Regions from separate parts of the Homo sapiens genome. Here region 1 is linked to region 2. Evidence: fine-mapped QTL for protein levels in blood plasma. Region 2 holds a variant in brackets. A gene starts in the other region. All regions are shown on their reverse strands. Region 1 holds the start of GALNT5 (polypeptide N-acetylgalactosaminyltransferase 5). Region 2 overlaps GMDS (GDP-mannose 4,6-dehydratase).

What was found. PIP is the posterior inclusion probability: the model's chance that the variant is causal. The UK Biobank Pharma Proteomics Project read protein levels with antibody pairs (Olink). The fine-mapping took linkage between variants from a reference panel, not from the people measured, so its PIPs are less certain.
Region 1: it holds the start of GALNT5, and the variant in region 2 is fine-mapped to the plasma level of the GALNT5 protein (UK Biobank, PIP 0.91).

Annotation. Positions count from the first base shown.
Region 1 is chr2:157,252,675-157,261,949 of GRCh38, reverse strand. It overlaps GALNT5 (polypeptide N-acetylgalactosaminyltransferase 5), which reads right to left and starts at 4,245. Exons shown (of 10, transcript NM_014568.3): 1 at 2,414-4,245. The coding sequence starts at 3,867.
Region 2 is chr6:2,219,059-2,228,333 of GRCh38, reverse strand. The region is part of intron 1 of GMDS (GDP-mannose 4,6-dehydratase); the gene reads left to right. Among named protein-coding and RNA genes, the nearest start is that of GMDS, 22 kb to the left of the region's middle. RefSeq lists a silencer at 1,285-1,579 and enhancers at 5,539-6,156, 6,323-6,392. The variant C/TC (reference allele first, on the strand shown) is at 4,865.

The sequences.
Region 1 (9,275 bases), not on the chromosome of region 2:
CCCCTTATGCTGACTTCGAAAACTTATTATCTTAAAAAATCTTATTGCATGCATTCCTGTAAGCAGCTACCTCAAACGCTTTTTGAGCCAGGCTGAAAATAAATAAAGCCAAATTTAAAAAAACAAAAACAAAAAACACTCCAAATCTTGCCAAACTGATGAATCAAATGTTTTTTGATTGTATTTTCTTTAACCTTTATCTATATGAATACATAATTTACACATATTTATAGTCAAGGTGTTTGGGTAAAAGAACAAAAAATGATTTATCCTCTTTCAAAGAAGAGGACTACAAAAGGACTGAAAAATACTTTGGGAGGCCCCAGGTCCAGGATCCCTGGTGGTAGACCCCTGAGTGGAGCGTAGCATCCGCCAGGCAGCTTGAGACACACCTATATTTAGCCAAGGTGGGTTATGTGATAAGAGGGAGGAGGCCTGGCCACATGCTCTCTGACTCATCCTCTCAAGCACATGTGTCAATTTTTCCTACAGTTGGGACAACCTCCTTCAGAAGACAGAGCCTGACTGTAACTTTCCTGGGCTGCAATGCTTAACTTCTACAGAACAAAGTATAGAAACTAAGAAGCACTGGGAGTCCCCGAGCTTTCAATGAGCCACACTAGTGATAACATCGTTATTACTTGCTTTGAGCACCCCCACCCCCGCCACGCATGTGCCTTTTCTCTGGTTTGGAACTGGAGCTTGTGCTTCTGTGCAGTGTCTAATTCCTCCCCAGACTCCCTAGCAGCCTGCCAGGTCAATAAGGGCATGTTAAAATGAAACTGCTTTAACGGCTACTTCATTTCCTTGCACTTTGTGTTCAAAGCTGGCATGTGTAATCCTGTGATACACAGGACTTTAGATTAGAGCTGGGCCAACACAATTTTTAGGATCCTTTTTGAGGGGAGATTGGCAAGAGATGGAAGAGAGTGCAGAATAATTTTGAGCATGAATTTTAATCATTTCTCTACAATGACTAGCTTTGTGACCACAGGCAATCTAGCATCCCAGGGCCTCAGTTTCCTCATCTTTGAGTATGTCTGCATTCTCCTCAAGACTGTGATTATCACCAGGGTGAGAAGCGTGAATGGCACAGTGCTTGGTATAAGCAGTGCATGGCTGATAGCTGTTTGCTGATGGCTAAGAGATGGAAAACGACCTGGTTGTAGCCGACATCACAATGAAGAGACTCTTCTTTCTAATGTGGATAAAGCTTCTCCTGTATCTGCCTTCCTCCTAGTAACACTGACTAAAATGTAATGCTGACTACCTAGATCACAAAGAAGAATTTTCTACAGAAGCCAAACAAGGCCATTGTTTACATGCCACATGTGCTAAGTCTCAATCTTGACATTCCCCAATCCAACTTCCTGGCAAATATTGTTTGACTTAGGGAACTGAGTTAACAGATATTGAACATACGGCTGTTGAGTACCTTCACTTATCAGTGGGCCAAGAAAAAAAATGCCAGGAACCCAATTATATTTGAATCAGATTAAATATCTATGTTTTGATCCACATCTGGTGATATAGTTATAGGAATTTAACTTTTTGAAGGACTGGTTACTGAAGGCCCATTGGGCAGCTTTAGAACTGCATTACCTTGAGAAAGTGTTGTAACTTCTGAGCGCCCTCGCCAGCTTGTTAATTTGAACCATAATGACTGCCTCCTCCTTTGCAGGGCTCATATGGAGTTCATCTATGTGTATGCAGGCTCTTTGTAAATAGTGAATGTCTACAAATATAAGTGATTATTATTATGCTTTTTATACCTCCTGTAGGTGTTTGCTGGTCATGGACTGATTGACTTTTTCCAACATTATGATTCCTATGTAACTGATCTCCTGAAATATCTACCATCTCCACCTATAAAGGAGATTAAATTTTAGGGAGTAAAGTCACTTCTCTTGCTATCCTGCTTATCATTACTTATGATTAGGCAGAATTCTGCTGGTTAAGATATGATTCCAGGGAGGCCTAGAAGAGTCCTTCTGTGTGCTTCTTTCCCAAATATATTCCTGACAAACTTGCTAATAATGAAAAGTTCCAAAATTGGGAATTCACTTCATTGTCACTATTCTAATGGAATTACACTTTAAGCTCTACCATTTATATACACGTTATTATGAACTGAGTTCATCTAATCATTTTAATAGGTTTTCAACAGAGGGAAGAAAATTGAACATGAGCTAATGGTAGGGACCAAAGTCTCAGAGAACAAGAACTCTGCAACTGCTAATAAGAGAATTTTTGTCTCTGTAGCTGGTGAAATATTTGAATGATATCCAATGATTAATGTTTCTTTAATTCTCTAGGTGACCAAAAATCACACAGAATTATCTAGCAATAAATCCTCTTTACATAACAGCCAAAGCACTTGGGGTTGAGGAAAGAGAAGAGAAATAGGTCTTACCCAGCAGGTCTGGTGTCTTCAATGGCTCTATCCACTGGGATCAAATCGCTAAGGTAGACATTGAAGTTTCCTTCTTTCCATCTTCTTTCTGCCTCCTTCTCCTTTCCATGGGGGACAACTACAGGACGCCCAAACTGCCCTGGAGCTTTGGGGTCCCTTGGAGAAAGTGTCACATCAATTCTTAACACCTGGTGCGTTCCACTGTCTTCAGGTAAAAGGGCTTTTATATGACTCTGGTTGTATTCTGTAGAGGGGGCTTTGGCAGTTATGTTGATTTTTGCTGGCTCTAGCCCTCCAGTTAAAGCATGGTTAGTTTGGGACAGTGGCACTCTATGTGGAGCAAGTGAAGAGGAAGACATCTCACTTCTATTCCTGGAAATGTGTTTACTTTGGCTTTTACCCAATACTTTAGGAAATATTGTTTTGGTTTTAGAATTAGAGACCTCTTTGGGGTCTGCCTTTTGCTCTTCCTCTTTGGTTATAATCACAAGATGGCTTTCAGAGAAATTGAGTTTCTTCCCATGAGCCCCTCTAGCTCCATCATCCTTTGACAAACTTCCCAAAGGTGTCTCATTAATAGATTGCTTCCTTAAGCGATTTGAATTGACAGTGAACTTAGGAAAAGGAAGACTCGTATTGGCTTTGTGTTTATTTGCATTGACTTCTTTGCTCTGAGTCTTAGTTTTGTTTAAGGCCATGGCTTCCCCAGACTTCGGCACTGCTGTGCTGGCAGGGTGTGCCCTCTCGTTTGCTACTGCCTGTGATCGCTGCTTTGGTCTATCAGTACTAAGACTGATGGTCACATTCAAGTCCCTTTCAGCTGCTAGTTTTGATGTGTCACTGCTGGGACTATGACTCTTCCGGGGCTCCTGTTTTAAACTGACACGTCCCATGTGTACTGATATTTTGACTACCTGAGTTCCTTTTGCTGCTATGAATGAGGTCTTTGGAGCCCCCTGAGCTGTCGTTTGCTTTGGTGTCCCCTGGTGAGAGGAGGCTTCAGGTTTGGTGCCTCTCCCGTCTGTCTTCTGCTTGTTAGGAGTCACAGGGAGGGTCTGCAGATGTGCAGGATGCCACAACGGCACAACCTTGCCCCTTCCCAGGGCATTCTGCATTTTTCTTTCCCTCTGGGTTTGGTCCAAGTCCACCTCAACCTTGAGCACACTCTCCTCAGTTTTTCTAACATTCTCTTTGCCCCATGCCCCTTTCCCATGTCCCCTTAGGGGAGGTTTCATCTCTTTTATGCTGCTGTAAAAAATTTTTCCTTGGTCTGGCTGAACTCTGAATCCTATCCGCTCCCTCCTCACAATGTCTTCCTTGATGACCCGAGTGTTGATCTCACTGAATGAGAGGCGGAGAGCTGCCATGTCAAAGAGGAGCCAGATGACAGAAGCTACAAAGATAAATGCCAAGACTCGCCCACTTCCTCGGAAAAACTTTCGGATCCTGTTCATGGTACAAAGCTTTCCCTAGCAGCCTGCCCTCCCTTAGCCTGCTTACCTTGAGTGGAGAGGAAGCTGAAGTAGCAGCAGCAGCAGCAGCAGCAGCAGAGTTGCCAGAAAGTGACCCCCTCCCCTGAACACAGCAGGAAGCAGCAGTCCAAGGGGAAAGCTCAGTTCCTACCGCTTGTCAGTCTCTGCCTGCGTGGCATTTCATAGCAGAGCATCTGTGCCTGCTTGGCTGGCCCTGGCTAAGTTCTGATAAACACTGGCCTTAGGTCACTCCAGGAGCAGTTGATTCCAGCCACCGAACAGTTCAACATATCACTTGTCTTGTCTCCGGGAGCCCATGTCCACCTTCCTACAAGCCCAAGAAAAGGTGGGGGCCAGATTGAGACTGCCGTTTCTCTCCTCCCCGTTCTCCGTCTGCACGCTGTAACTCAACACCACTTCTCATAAGGAAAACATTTCATGCCATTACCCAGAAAACTTCATTCAGCTCTCACCTTCTGTGTTATGTGAGAGCATGTGTGTTTAAACGGCAATTAAAGAGGAAAAAAAGCTATCTAACTTGGAGGGCATGTGTTCCTGGTTTGTGACCCCACCTACCCTACTCCTGCTCATTAACCCTGTTGTAGCCAGGTGCCAATGCTCTGCCTGAGGAATTTATCACTGAAGTTAACATTTCAGCTTTAAGACATAACAGCTTAAAGAAGGGGCCTGGTATATCCTCACTTCCAGAGATGTATATGTTTAATTATTTAGATCATTCATTCAAGGGGTTTCAATGTATTTCTTTGTAAGCCAACTATTTTTTTTTCACTAATCCATCTGTTTTTATTATTACATTTGATTACAAATAAACTTAATTTGTCATACTGCTATAAAAGTTTCTAAACACTTTGTTATGGTCTGAATGTTTATGTCCACCCAAAATTCATATGTTGAAACCTAATCATAAATGTGATAGTATTAGGAGGTAGGGCTTTTGAAGGTGATTTCATTATAAGGATAGAGCCCTCATGAATGGGATCAGCACCCTTAAAAAAGAGGCCCTATTGCCTTGCCATTCCACAAAGTGAAGACATAATGAGAAGGTGCCATCTATGAACCAGGAAATGGGCCTTCACCAGTCAACGAATCTGCTGGTGCCTTGATTTCTGACTTCTCAGTCTCTAGAACTGTGAGAAATAAGTTTCTGTTGTTTATGAGTCACTTAGTCTATGTTATTCTTCTATAGTAGCCTGAACAGATTAAGATACACTTACTCTCAGTTTCAGTACTTATCTCGTCTTAAACCAGCAAGCAACAGTTTCAGGACCACACCAGGACTTGGACCAGATTTTGAGTGATGCTGGTTGACTGGTAGGGTAGCAGTTCCGCCACAGGCTTTTCATTAGAACCACTTGAAACAAGATCCCCAAAACTCTGGTCAATTGATGAGAGAGGAGGTGGAGATGACATTTGGGCTGATATTGTATTAAATATATATATATATATATATATATATATATATATATATATATATTTTTTTTTTTTTTTTTTTTTTTACAAAGCTTCCCAGGTCTTTCAAATGTGCAGCTAAAGTTGAGAAACACTGGTCTAGAAAAAAAGTCTCAATTTTTTGTTTGTTTGTTTTTGGTTTTTGAACATTGCCTATGAGACATTTAATTTTAGGTGTCTACTTGACTGGGCTAAGGAACACCCAGAGAACCAGTAAAGCATTATTTTTAGGTATATCTGTGAGGGTGTTTCCAGAAGAGATTGGCATTTGACTCAGTGCACTGAGTGGGGAGGAGATGCCCTCACCCAATGTGGGCAGGCACCACTAATTGGTTGAGGGCCCAGATAGAAAAAAAGGCAGAGGAAAGGTGGATTCTGTCTCTGTTAGTGAGCTGGGACATCTTTCTTCTTCTGCCTTTGGACTAGAACTTTAGATTCTCTGGCTTTGGCCTCTGGGGCTTGTACCAGTCTGCCCCCACAACCTCCACATCCCTCACTAGGTTCTCAGGCTTTTGACCTCAGACTGAGAGTGATGTTATTGGCTTCCCTGGTTCTCAGGCCTTTGGACTCAGAATGTGCCATGTTACTGGCTTTCCTGGTTCTCCAGCTTGCAGGTGGCCTGGACTGAGGTTTCTCAGTCTCCATAACCACATGAGCCAATTCCTGTAATAAACTGCAACTCACTTATCTACCTCTATGAATCCTATTGGTTCTGTTTCTCTGAAAAATCCTGGCCAATACAGTCTACAACTTGTGTGACATTCCTTCCCTGTCTAAAGTACAGTCTAATAAAATCTATGCATTCCCATAACAACTAAATCAGAATACACATTTTGACATTGCCAGTTGTAAAGATTGTCCATAGAGTTTGAGAAGCACTTCTCGGGACCACTGTCCTTCTCTCTGAGGAACTCTGAGTGATTTGTGGACAACACTGCTGTTCATTACTCTAGTGTGGGGAGGGTCTAGCTTCCATGCTTTGAGGTAAACTTATGTTCCCAATGACTTGGGAGGGGAAGGAGAGATTCCAAATTCATATATATATCTCAAGCACTTTGCTAAGTTCTTTCCATTGACTATCTCACTCAATCCTCACAAGAATCTAATGTGAAGGAGTAAATTACAATATGTATTTTGTAGTCAGCAAATGAAACCTTAGAGAGGTAAAGCAACTTCTGGTAGAGATTGGAGGGGTTGGGTCTTGAATACACGACTGTAGTCCGTGTGCTTCAATATCACACAATACTGCTCTCTAGCTGTATGATCTTGCAGGCTAGTTAATTTTATGTGGTTACTGAGCAATAAAAAAAAATTCTGCTTTGCAGATTAATGTGAGAATATTTAAAAATGGTTAAAGTTATTGTTATATTGAAGGTACTCTTTAAATGTTAGCCATTCATATTGTTGCTAATACTTTGCTGTAATAGGAGTGTCGGATGCATGTGGGAGGCAATGTACCAGCTCTTCCCAAAAAAACAAGTAGAAAACTAGTGACTAACATGATTCTGGCAATGGGGAAGAAACAAATCTGAGTATTTTATTTTATTCTTGCCATTCTTATTTCCTCTAATTATAGATTTAACAAGACCATTGTTCACTGAGAACTCCCTACATGCCCAAAACATGAAGTAGGTGACATTGTCTCTGCCCCTAACAACCTTAAAACTCCCCTCAGTAGAACGCCACCAGTATAATAATAATAATAATAAAAAAAGAACGCCACCAGCAAAAAACATAGCACACATCTTTAGCATCCACATTCGAAAATAAAGTGAGAATTTTTTTTAGCATCATGGATAAATGGTTTGCATTACAATATTGTTTTAAACATGAAAATAGAATACTTTAAAATTATTTTACTCTGCATGATTCAATCTTGTCCAGCCACCATCCCACCCCAAATGGCAGTTGGAATTACTCAAATGTCTTTTAGGAAAGTCAACACTTGTTATATTCTATGCTTGGCAGTTTAAAACACTGCTTGAAATATATTCTTGTTTCCATATAAATTTTATCAAAGAGTACTGATTTCTTTTTATCCCTCTCTGGTTTGTCCTTGCGAATCAAAACACAAATTACTTGCAACAGGAGAGCAACATGTTAAGAAAATTAAAAGGGAATCTTGGCTTATCTATCATGGGTAAAGCAACACATTAACTCTGGCTTAGTCTTCGGTCTATTTGACATACAATTCAGAATGAAATGTGAAGAGTGGGTAGGAGAGTAAGGAAACATTGATTAAATATCCTAGAAATGGAGGAGTAGATTTGTTGTCAGACCTGGTCTAAAGTACTGACTTGGCCACTAATAGCCATATGACTATGGATGTGTCACACATGGAAAAGCTTGTGTAAGGTTCTCTTCCCAGCCTCTTCTTGGTCTTTTCCCTTGTGAGTTTATGATAATCTGTGATGATGGTAGAAGTTGGTTATAAGCCATACCACTAATTCAACACTATGTGTCTTCAGGCACTCAGTAATAATTTCTGTGGCCCTCATAGCTGTACATCTTTCTCCTTTTTTTTCTCTTTTCCGACACACATGCTGTTTCACATCTCAGATCAATGAATTGCATAGGTAAAAGGAATAGAAAAAAAAGGATATTAGGAAATTCTACCTTTTCATCAACACACATATTGCCCAACACATGACATTTGTATATTGGTAAATGACGGTGCTTCTAAAATTTTAGTTGTATTAATTTCCATGTTACCAGCAGGAAACTAAATACGTAAGTGGGTTGGTTATTTGAGGTACCCCACAGTTAGGGAGCCTGGCTTGTCATCCCAAGTCGTAGAATGCAGGTACCTTTGGCTGGTCAAATTTCTCAAGAATCTGTACATACTTAGTTGGAGATGATATCCATCTGAAAATCTGGAGTTACGAATTATCCTTGGGAGACATTTGGAGGGGTTATTCCAATTATCAGTCTGACTCCAGCTTGTACTAAACATTTAAAAACAGATTTTAGTTTCTTCTTCTGTAAAACGAGCATAATAGTAGGAGGACTTGCCCTCTACTCTATTTGGTTGTTGTCAGGATAATCATATTAATAGCAACCTTTCATTGGGAATTTACTGAGGGCCTACCACTAGTCACTTCACGGTATCTCATTTAATCCTCAACATTTAATTTTCTCAGACTAGATCAAAAACTGTTCAGCAAAACAGATCTGCATAAAGTTAGAGTGAAAAGTATATTTGTGTTATATTCTCATGGCAAATGTCTTTGAATCATCCTCATTGTTAATCAAGTAGGAGCTCAGTAAACACTGTTTTATATCTAGCCTTAAATCTCCCTGATGGAAGTACAGAATCTTAGAAACACCGGTTCCAGCTCTCTGGCTTTGCATCTACAGTTACTTTATCTGGGTATTTGAAGATTTCTTGACTATGTGAGTATATCCTAAGTAACTAATATCTGTTTTATTTTATGATATTTACTCAACTACTCACTCCTAAGTAAAAAGAAAGATGTAAAAGGAAAATTAATTTAAATGTATATTTTACAGAGAATAATGATTATCCATGGATGCATCACTGAATTTCTTTTTCCCCAGTTTTACTGAGCTATAATTGACTAATAAAATGATACATATATTAAATATTTAAGGTGTACAACATGACTTTGGATAGCCTTATACATTGTGGTATGATTGCCTCAATGCAGCTGATCTCCATTATCTCACATAATTATCTTTTTTTGTGTGTGGTGAGAACATTTAAGATCTACTCTCTTAGCAAGTTTCAAGTATACAATATATTATTATCAACTATGGTCATCAGGCTGTACATTAGCTCTCCAGAACTTACTAATCCTGCGTAACTGAAACTTTGTATTCTTTGACCAATACCTTCCAACTTTCTCCATCCCCCAACCCGCAGTAACCACCATTCTACTCTCTACTTCTATGAGTTCAAT
Region 2 (9,275 bases):
AGGAAAAGGAGGACGTGAAGGCCCAGAAGTGCTGAGAAGCACAGAAGGGTGGTGTTGGTGTTGGCTTTTCAGTCTTCATTTTCCTCTGTGAGTGGATCCTTTTAGATCAGTGGTGGGATGTCATAAACGTTTAATCCTGAGTGACACAGAAGGTGACACAGGCTTGCACTTTATATCCAAGAGGAACCAAGCACACTCAGATAGGTGCCTGCCATTCTTGTTTCTCTAGGAAAAGTTCCTAAAGGTGCTAAGAGGGGTACATTTTGTCTAGGTTCAGCACTGGGAGGGAGGTGTAAGAAGCTGCTTGCCTTCTTTTTACCTTGTACTTCACTGCGTAGACCCAGCACAGGCTTGGGCCACGTGCCGAGAAAGGGCCGCACAGCCACAGGTTGGCTCTCATTGAGCATGGTTATGTGTTAACTACCCATATTTCCTGGAAATGCCACAGAACTGAAGTTGGAAGCAGGTAGGAGAGCCTATGTCTGGACAGCAAGGGGAGTCCTGGGCAGCTGCACTTACATGGACCTTGGGGAGCTGGCCCCGTTGTTGCCTTGCTGTCATGGCCACTGAGATTCAGCTGCTATTGTGACCCAGGGGACCTCTGTGTGGCACAGCCTTCTGTTCTGGAATCCCAGGGAAACAGCTCTGGCCTGCCCGCTCCTTCCTATAGTTCCAGCCACAATTGGCACCTCACTCCCTGCATCCAGTGCAATCTCAGGTGTCTCCTGCTGTGCTTGCCTTTTCCACAGTCACTCTCTAGGAACTACTGAAATTCTCACTAGAATCAGCTGTTTCTCTAGATATGGAGCTTGTTCCAAAAGAATACTTTGCTTTTTTGTTGATGTTCTGACCTTTGATTTCAGTCCTCTCCAAAGATAAGAAACTTGCCATTTGTAGTTGAAGCATCCATAAAGCATGGTTCTGATGTTGGTGGTGTAATAGAATTACTTGGGCAGGTTGAATAACTCTTGGCTCTTCTATGCAGTTCAGTGGGCTTAGGGTAGAACTTGGAGCTGGCTGTTTTTAGAAACATTCTGAGGTGTTTGAAAAGTGAGGTGTTGTGGTTGAGAACCATTCATTTATGGGGACCGTAGTAGTGACTTGAAACATTTTATATATATATATGACATATATATGGAAATATATATATTTCATAAACTTTTTTCCTTAACATTTATTCAGAATAGTAAAAATAATGTTCACTATTGAAAAATTGGAAGTATAGGAGGATATAAAGTTTCAGGGGGAAAAAAAACAACACCCGCAATCCCACCACTCAGAAGTAATTACTGCCTGCATTATCTTTTCTTCATTGTTTTGACTAACTTGTTACTGATTGACTTCACTGCTTTTCAGCAAATGTTACTGGCCTTGAGTTGGATATGGAACTTAAATTCCATCTGGAATCATTCCTGGATGATTCTTTCAGAGTCATCAAGTACTGATTGAGTACGAGGGACTCCAGGGATGAATGCATCTGGGGGTCTAGGGTGAGGAAAATCCCAGCCTCAAGAGATCTTGTTAGTTAACCAGCTTAGCACCTCCTATTATGATTGTCATAGACATTTGTGTGTATATTTTAGTTCACATGTTAGGTGTTTTTAATGGTTTCATATTATTTTGAGTGATAGAATTTAGGAGAGTAAATGCTAGTAGAATCAGAGTTCATTAGTTTTTGACATGTTATATGCAAACACTTAAAAAAATTCCTGTGATGTTTGCTGAAGTTTGCATTTCCAGATACTCATATTCCATTTCTGTGTATTCTGATAGGAGGGTTATAATATCTCTGTTGTTGGGGCTATTGCTCTGGAGTATTTATCGATTAACTTTTGTTAATGATATACTCTGTGAAAGCACTTTATTAACTGGATTAAAAAAATTAATTGTAGCACACAGTAATGCGAAAATTTAGTTGGAATGTTGCCCTTATGGACAGTTATCATAGGCAGAATCTAACTCTTAGATGGGAACAGCAATCATGATCTCACAGGTCTCCTACAGCTCTGACAAATTCTTTCAAAATTAGTGAACTGCATTCTGGGTCTCTACTATAGAAGAGTCTCTGACTTCACGGGTTTCATGTTATTTCTACCCAGGAATCAGGATGCCTCACCCAAAGGCAGTTTTGACAAAATTAAAGTATATTGTTGGTGAGTGTCCAGAAGAGAGTGAAAACTGGGATGGCCTGGCTCAGTGTTGGTCTAGCAGAAACTACCTCTAGTGTAATTGTTTCCTTTCTCCCTCCTCTTTGTTTTCTGCCTCTATTTCATTTCTTTCTTTTCACAGTTTTTTCTTTTCTATTCCTCTCTCTTTTTTTCTTTTCTTAGGTTAGGCTTTCAGGGGCTGGAATGGGAGCAGAGTTCACCTGCCAGGAAGTGAGAATGGCAGGAAAGCTGGAATGGCAGTCCTTGGCTCTCCTGTGGTCGAGGTCTGATTACCTTCTAGGTAGTCATTGTGTCCCAGGAGATTTCAGAGAACAAACAGTGGAATCTTATTTAAATAGTTCTGTTAGGAGCATTAATGTTGTTTGTAGGTCATGGTCCAGATGGAAGCTGGCCCTTTTCTGACAAATACCTGGAAACATTTCCTTATTCTACTGTACGTTAGGATTTTGCAATCATTCTTTTCTGATCCCTAGCTTACTGGATAATCACAAAGGCTTTTTACTTCCTTTGTGCTGTAATATTGATCATCTGTGTTGGTTGGTTTACAGCCAACACACTGATCCGGATGCAAGCCGGAAAATCTAAGGGTTGGCAAATGATTCGTCATTTGCATAGAACAGCCTAGGACTCTTCAGAATGAACTTATGGAAGAGAGCTGTGGCATAGGAGCAGGAGAAGGTACAAGTTAGGGAGCAGTTTGGTATTGCACTTCATCTTTAGTTCAGCTTTGTTGCAGGGATCAAGACTGCAAGTTAAAGGGCAAGTTAGGGGGCACCTCTGTCTTTAATGAGATCATAGGATAAAGGCTTATTTATTTGTTTGTTTGTTTATTTATTGAGACAGGGTCTTGCTTGGTTACTCAGGATGGAGTGCGGTGGTGCAGTCTTGGCTTACTGAAGCCTTGACCTCCCCAGCTCAGACAATACTTCTGCCTCAGCCTCCCGAGTAGCTGGGACCACAGTTGTGCACTACCATGCCCAGCTAATTTTTTTTTTTTTTTGTATTTTTTATAGAAACGAGGTTTCACCATGTTGCCCAGGCTGGTCTTGAATTCCTGGGCCCAAGCGATCCACCCACCTCGGCTTCCCAAAGTGCTGAGGTTACAGGCCTGAGCCACCATGCCCGGCCAAGGCTTACTGTTCATCTCAGGTAGCGTCTGACATCGTGTGGACGTACGTGCGTTCAAATCTCCTCTCTGCCAGTTCTCAGTTCTGTGACTTTCAAGTAATTATTCAGCCTCTCTGTGCCTCAGTTTTCTCTTTTGTAAAGTGAGGATAATGGTACTAGCCATAGGTGAGGGTTGAAGGACACAGTGTCTGGCACATAATATTAATAAATATTCATTAATGTTTTACTCTTGGCTGTCCTGAACATTAGTCTGCTTTGACCTAGAATTCTTTTCCTGAAGACACGCTATAATTTTGATGAGAGTAAACAACTAACTCTTATTTGCATGTTCAAATAAACATGTTTTTATGAAGGTACTTGGTGTTCATTAACAAATGCTATACTTATGATTTTTTTTCTCTGAGACATAATACCAAACTTGTACATAAAATATTTCTGATCACTGATCTTCGCTCCTATAACTATAAAATTATATGTAAAATAGCTAAAAACTACTCAGTGCACTCTTTAGAATATATGTATTTCTCCTATGAGAAGCATCATTGAGATCTTTATTTGGGAAGCAATTAGGTTGCAAATTGAAAACAGTTTCCAACATCATCACCAAACTGAAAATGCCAAGTTGTCTGAGTCTAATGTCCAGAAGTCATTGTGGCCCTGTGGTCAGTGTTCTGCATTAGGGATCCCTGCAACAGAGCTGAATTAAAGATGAAGCACAGTAACCCAACACCTGTGTCAATAAGGGTGGATAATTTCTAGGGTTCCACAACGGGCTGTCAGTATCTTTCTCATTATTCCCCCAGCCTTTGTTTCACAGCCCAGTGGCTTCAGTCACTATGTCCATTTTCTTATCTCTTAAGGACTGTTCAACTCATTATATTTGGTTGCTTTCCCCATCCTACCCTAAACTGTTGTTATATAAGATCTTCTAAATTACCTTTCACGGCTAAACCCTGCAACTTCAGTCCTTGTCTTACTTGCTTTGTTGGCGTGTGTTATCACTGTCACTTTTCCTCTTGATTTTCCCTCCTCTGCTGGTTTTCCTTGTACCTCTTTGTCAGTGCATTGTTCTGCCCACCCTTGCAGGTTAGTGTGTCTTAACATACCATTCCTGACTCTCTCCTACTTTGTTCACTTTCTATGTCTACAACTGCAGTCACTCTTCCCTTGTGAATCCCAAAGCCTTGTCTCCAGTCCAGATTTGTTTCCTGAGTTCCAGACCCTGAGTTCCAAATGCCTCAACATTTCCATGTAGGTATTTCATAGACATCTCCTACTCCACATGTCCCTCCCTTCTATCATCTCTGTGTTTTTCCCCACCCTATTTCAAAGCAGGACCACAATCCATTTGGGAGCCAAAGTCAGAAATCTTGGAGTCATCCTATCGTCCTCCTTTCCCCTCACTCCTCATGTCTTCACCAGCAGGTCCTGCTGATTTTACCCCACTAGCATAGCTTTGGTAGCGGTGTCATCTCTTGTCCTTTCCTTGCCCACATCAGTTACCTTGTCCTGCCTGGGCTGTTATAGTAACCTCCTACCTGGTCTTCTGCTTCCAGTCTTTTTTTTTT[C/TC]CATTCATTTGCTGCCAGTGAGTTTTAGCTGGAGTGACCATCTGATCATGTCAGATGGTCGCTCCTCAGCTTAAACTATTGGTGGCTCTCTCTTGCCCTGGGGGGAGTGTAAACTCTCCAGTGTCCCAGTGCCTTTGTGACTAGCACTTTCCTGCCTTTGCACCACATGCCCCCTGGCTTGTGTGTGTTTTGTAACCCAGCCATTTTGTACGGATAGTTTCTTGAATTCACCATATCCACATTAGTCATGGTTCTCTGGAGAAACAGAACCAGTGGGATGGATGGATATGGATATATATATATGTGTGTATATATATATAGAGAGAGAGAGAGCGCGCTATTGATTGATTGATTGATTGATTGATTGATTTGAAGGAATTGGTTCATGTCATTGTGGGGGCTGGCAAGTCTGAGATTTGCAGGGCTGGCTGGCAAGCTAGAGACACAGGAAAGAGTTGATGTTGCAGCTCCAGTCCAACATCTAGGCCGCTTGGAGGCAGAATTAGTTGTTCCTCCTGGGTAATGTCTTTGAGTGGATGAAGCCCACTCACATTGTAGGGAGTATTACTCAGTGTACTGATTTAAATGTTAATCACATCTAAAAAATAGCCTTCAGAGCAACATCTAGGCAGGTGTTTGACCAAGTCTGGTTGGCATATCCTAGTTAGCACACAAAATTAACTGCCTCACTGTCTTTCTCAATGTTGCTCGTGTTTGTATCTGTCCAGATTTCCCCCACACCTACTGTGGTGCCTACTGACCGCCTGGAAACCTGCCACTCATCCTGTGCTCCACTCTCAGCCTGCCCTGACCTTCTCAAGCAGCACAGCATTTCTTAGTACAGCATTTCCTTTTTTTGTTCCTAATTGGCTGGTAATTGCGTCTATTACAGTATTCCCCCTTTGCTGTGAGTATTCTTAAATTGCCTAACAGAATCAGTATGCCTCAAGGACCAAGCTTCTATTGTTTACATTCACCAGTGCTTAAGCACCTGATGAGTACCCAATAATTGTGTAATGAGGCACCGAATGAATGGAGACATTTGGGCCAAAGGGTCGGAGATAAGCAGTGAGAATGGAAGCAGTTGAGGGAGAAAGCAGAGGTTTTGGAGCCATTTGGAATTGGAGGAATCCCATTCACTGCACCAGGGTGTGGTCTCTAACCCCAGGAGAGCATTTTAGACGCCTAGGGAAAGCAGCTCTGCAGTCAGATTGACAGGATCGGAGTAAACCTCTGAGAAGCTCCAAAACTCAATCCCAGATCATACTTCTTACAGTGAGTGCTGGTCTAATGATTTCCATAGAATTTGCATCGTAATTTGGTGACAGTGTGTAAAAGCTGTCATTATCAGACTTCAGCATACTAGTCGCTTCCAGCTAATCACCTCCATGCAGGGGAGCCTAGACTGAAACATTGTTGCTTTTCATTATTTTGGAGAATAATTTAGGTAGAATTACTGTTTAATTTTTGTATTTCCTATTTAAGAAAACCTGTTTCTTTACGGCCCTTTGACTTTCATTTTCTCTTTTTCTTCCCACTGACCTGGCGGCTTCTTAAAGGGGCAGCACCAAGTTTCCTGTTGCCCCTGTGGGCAGTGGCCACAGATTGTCTTCTTTTTCTTCTTTTATACCCCATGGCACATTCTGAGAGTATTTTCTTTTTTCGTTGTTGTTTGTTTTCTTTTTGCTTGGGACTGCTATAATGTGAATATGATATTCTCATTAATTCATTTACTCATGTTGCAAAATTCACTAAAATCCCTTTGTTAAAAGAACATTTTAAGGCCGGGCATGGTGGCTCACTCCTGTAATCCCAGCACTTTGGGAGGCCGAGGCAGTCGGATCACGAGGTCAGGATATGGAGACCATCCTAGCTAACACGGTGAAACCCCGTCTCTACTAAAAATACAAAAAATTAGCCGGTCGTGGTGGCGGGTGCCTGTAGTCCCAGCTACTCTGGAGGCTGAGGCAGGAGAATGGTGTGAACCCGGGAGGCCGGGAGGCGGAGCTTGCAGTGAGCCGAGATTGCGCCACCGCACTCTAGCCTGGGTGACAGAGCAAGACTCCGTCTCAAAAAAAAAAAGAACATTTTAGATGACACTACTTTAAGTAATGTAATATTGTGTTTAAGGGAGCTTGATTAAAATAATAAAATGCAATTGAAGTCAAAACAGATGGATAAATCATGATATTACAAGTGAGAACTGGAATTCTACGTGAAGCCAGGAATAAAGCTGAGAGGTAATCTTTGAGCCACAATTTTGTGTTTTTTTGTTTATTTGTTTGAGATTGGGTGTTGCTTCTTGCTCTGTTGCCTAGGCTGGAGTACAGTGGCTCCTGTAACCTCAAACTCTTAGATTCAAGCAATCCTCCCACCTCAGTCTCCTGAGGAGTACATTACTTGTGGTAATGTACTACAGGTGTACATTACCATGCCTGGCTAATTAAAAAATTTCTGTATAGACGGGGTCTTGCTGTATTCCCCACGCTGGTTGTGAACTCCTAATCTCAAGTGATCTTCCCACGTTGGCCTCCCCAAATGCTTGGATTCCAGGTGTGAACCACTGTGCCTGAGCTTGTACATCCCTTCTTAGAAGGCCACAGCTTTATTACCATTATCAAACAGGGACATACAAGTACAGGTTGAGTATCCCTTATCTGAAGTGCTTGGGAGCACAAGTGTTTCAGATTTTTTTTTTTTCCGATTTTGAAATATTTTCATATACGTAGAGAAATGTATATACAAATCTTGGGGGTGGGACCCAAGTTTAAACATGAAATTTGTTTATCTTCATATATACCTTAAACACATAGCCCGAAGGTAATTTTATACAACACATTAAGTAATTTTATGTGTGTAGCAAAGTTTGTGTACATTGAACTGTCAGAAAGTGAAGGTGACTCTATCTGAGCCACCCATGTGGACAGTCTGTAGTTGTCTGGCATCCCCATCCTTCTTGAGGCTGAATTTATATGCTACGTATAAGCAATTATTGTCTCACATCTATTCACATTAAAGCACTTAACAGTAAAAAATATGACATGCCATTATTACAGCGAGAAAATAAGTGTCAGGGTAACCAAGCAGCACAGAGCATCACCAGACATCTGTACCAGCTGCTAAACCACAGCAACAGCACACAGCAGCAGGCTTTCCGTCTCCATCTGTGAGGCCTTGTGTTGACTAAAAGGTTACCGTACCTGTATCTTGTGTTTGGTGGGTGAAAAGAAACATCAGAAGTATTGAAGGACCGGGAAATTGAGTCCTCTAGGGATAAGGAGGCGTTCTGCTGGATGGCTTTTAAAGATGTTTCCTCCGGAGTCATCTGCCTCATTAGCCATGATTTTTGTCTTACAAGTCTTTGATTTTATACACTGACAGGATTTCATGTTTTATTGTGAATGCACACTGCCCTAGCCCTTGAATAAGCCCTTCACACATTTTCAACATGTTGTCTCTGGGCACTTTTTCTGCAGTGTTGACATCATCTTCATTGTCACCATTATAGGTTGAATATCCCTTATCTGAAATGCTTGGGACCAGAGGGGTGGAATTTTCCACTTCTGGTGCCATGTTGACACTAAAAAAGTTTTGGATTTGGGGACATTTTGGATTTTCAGATTAGGGATGCTTAACCTGTAGTTGTATAATTTATGACATTTGAAGAAAACGGAAGTGACCCGGCTGCTCAGGAGCAATATTCATGATACTGAAATCAGAGGGAATTTTTTTTTAAAGTTTCTGGTTTAAGTTGGTGCCCAGGAGGTGTGGTCTTTTAACTGGTGTGGTCGGTGCTCTGTTTGTTACTGGTCTGTGACAAGGTAAGTACAGAAAATGAGAGTAAATTTAGAAGCTTTTATAGCAAGTTCCTGAGACATTTACATCTAATCATTTTTTTTTAGTAACTCACCTTCAGTTGTATTTTACAAAAGAACCAGTTCATGATGGATTAGAAATTTAAAATGAGGATGCTGACAATAACTAGTTCTTTACTGCAGACAGTTTGAGAAGCACTGGTTTAGAGGATCCTGTGTAAAGTGATTACGAATATCGTCCATATAGTAAGTTCTATGTTGTCTTCTCACTTAACAGGATGCACTGTTGGCTGATGGCCTAATGACAGCATGCTCTTCAGCCAAACTGGTTCTGTAGGACTCAAGTTTCTACCCTCTCTATCATCTGGCTTCTATTTAGATTTTGCTTTATTTCCAAATTTTTATTTATCTTCTGGGTAGGTAATATATTCAGCTAATTTAAAATATAAAGATGCAAATGGGTATTCAGGTGAGTCGTCCTATGCCTGTCCGCCACCTCCCCATTTCCTCTTCTCAGAGGACCGACCTGTTGCCTGTTTACTTTCTTTTTTTGTTTTTCACACAGGGTCTTGCTCTGTCGCCCAGGCTGGAGTACA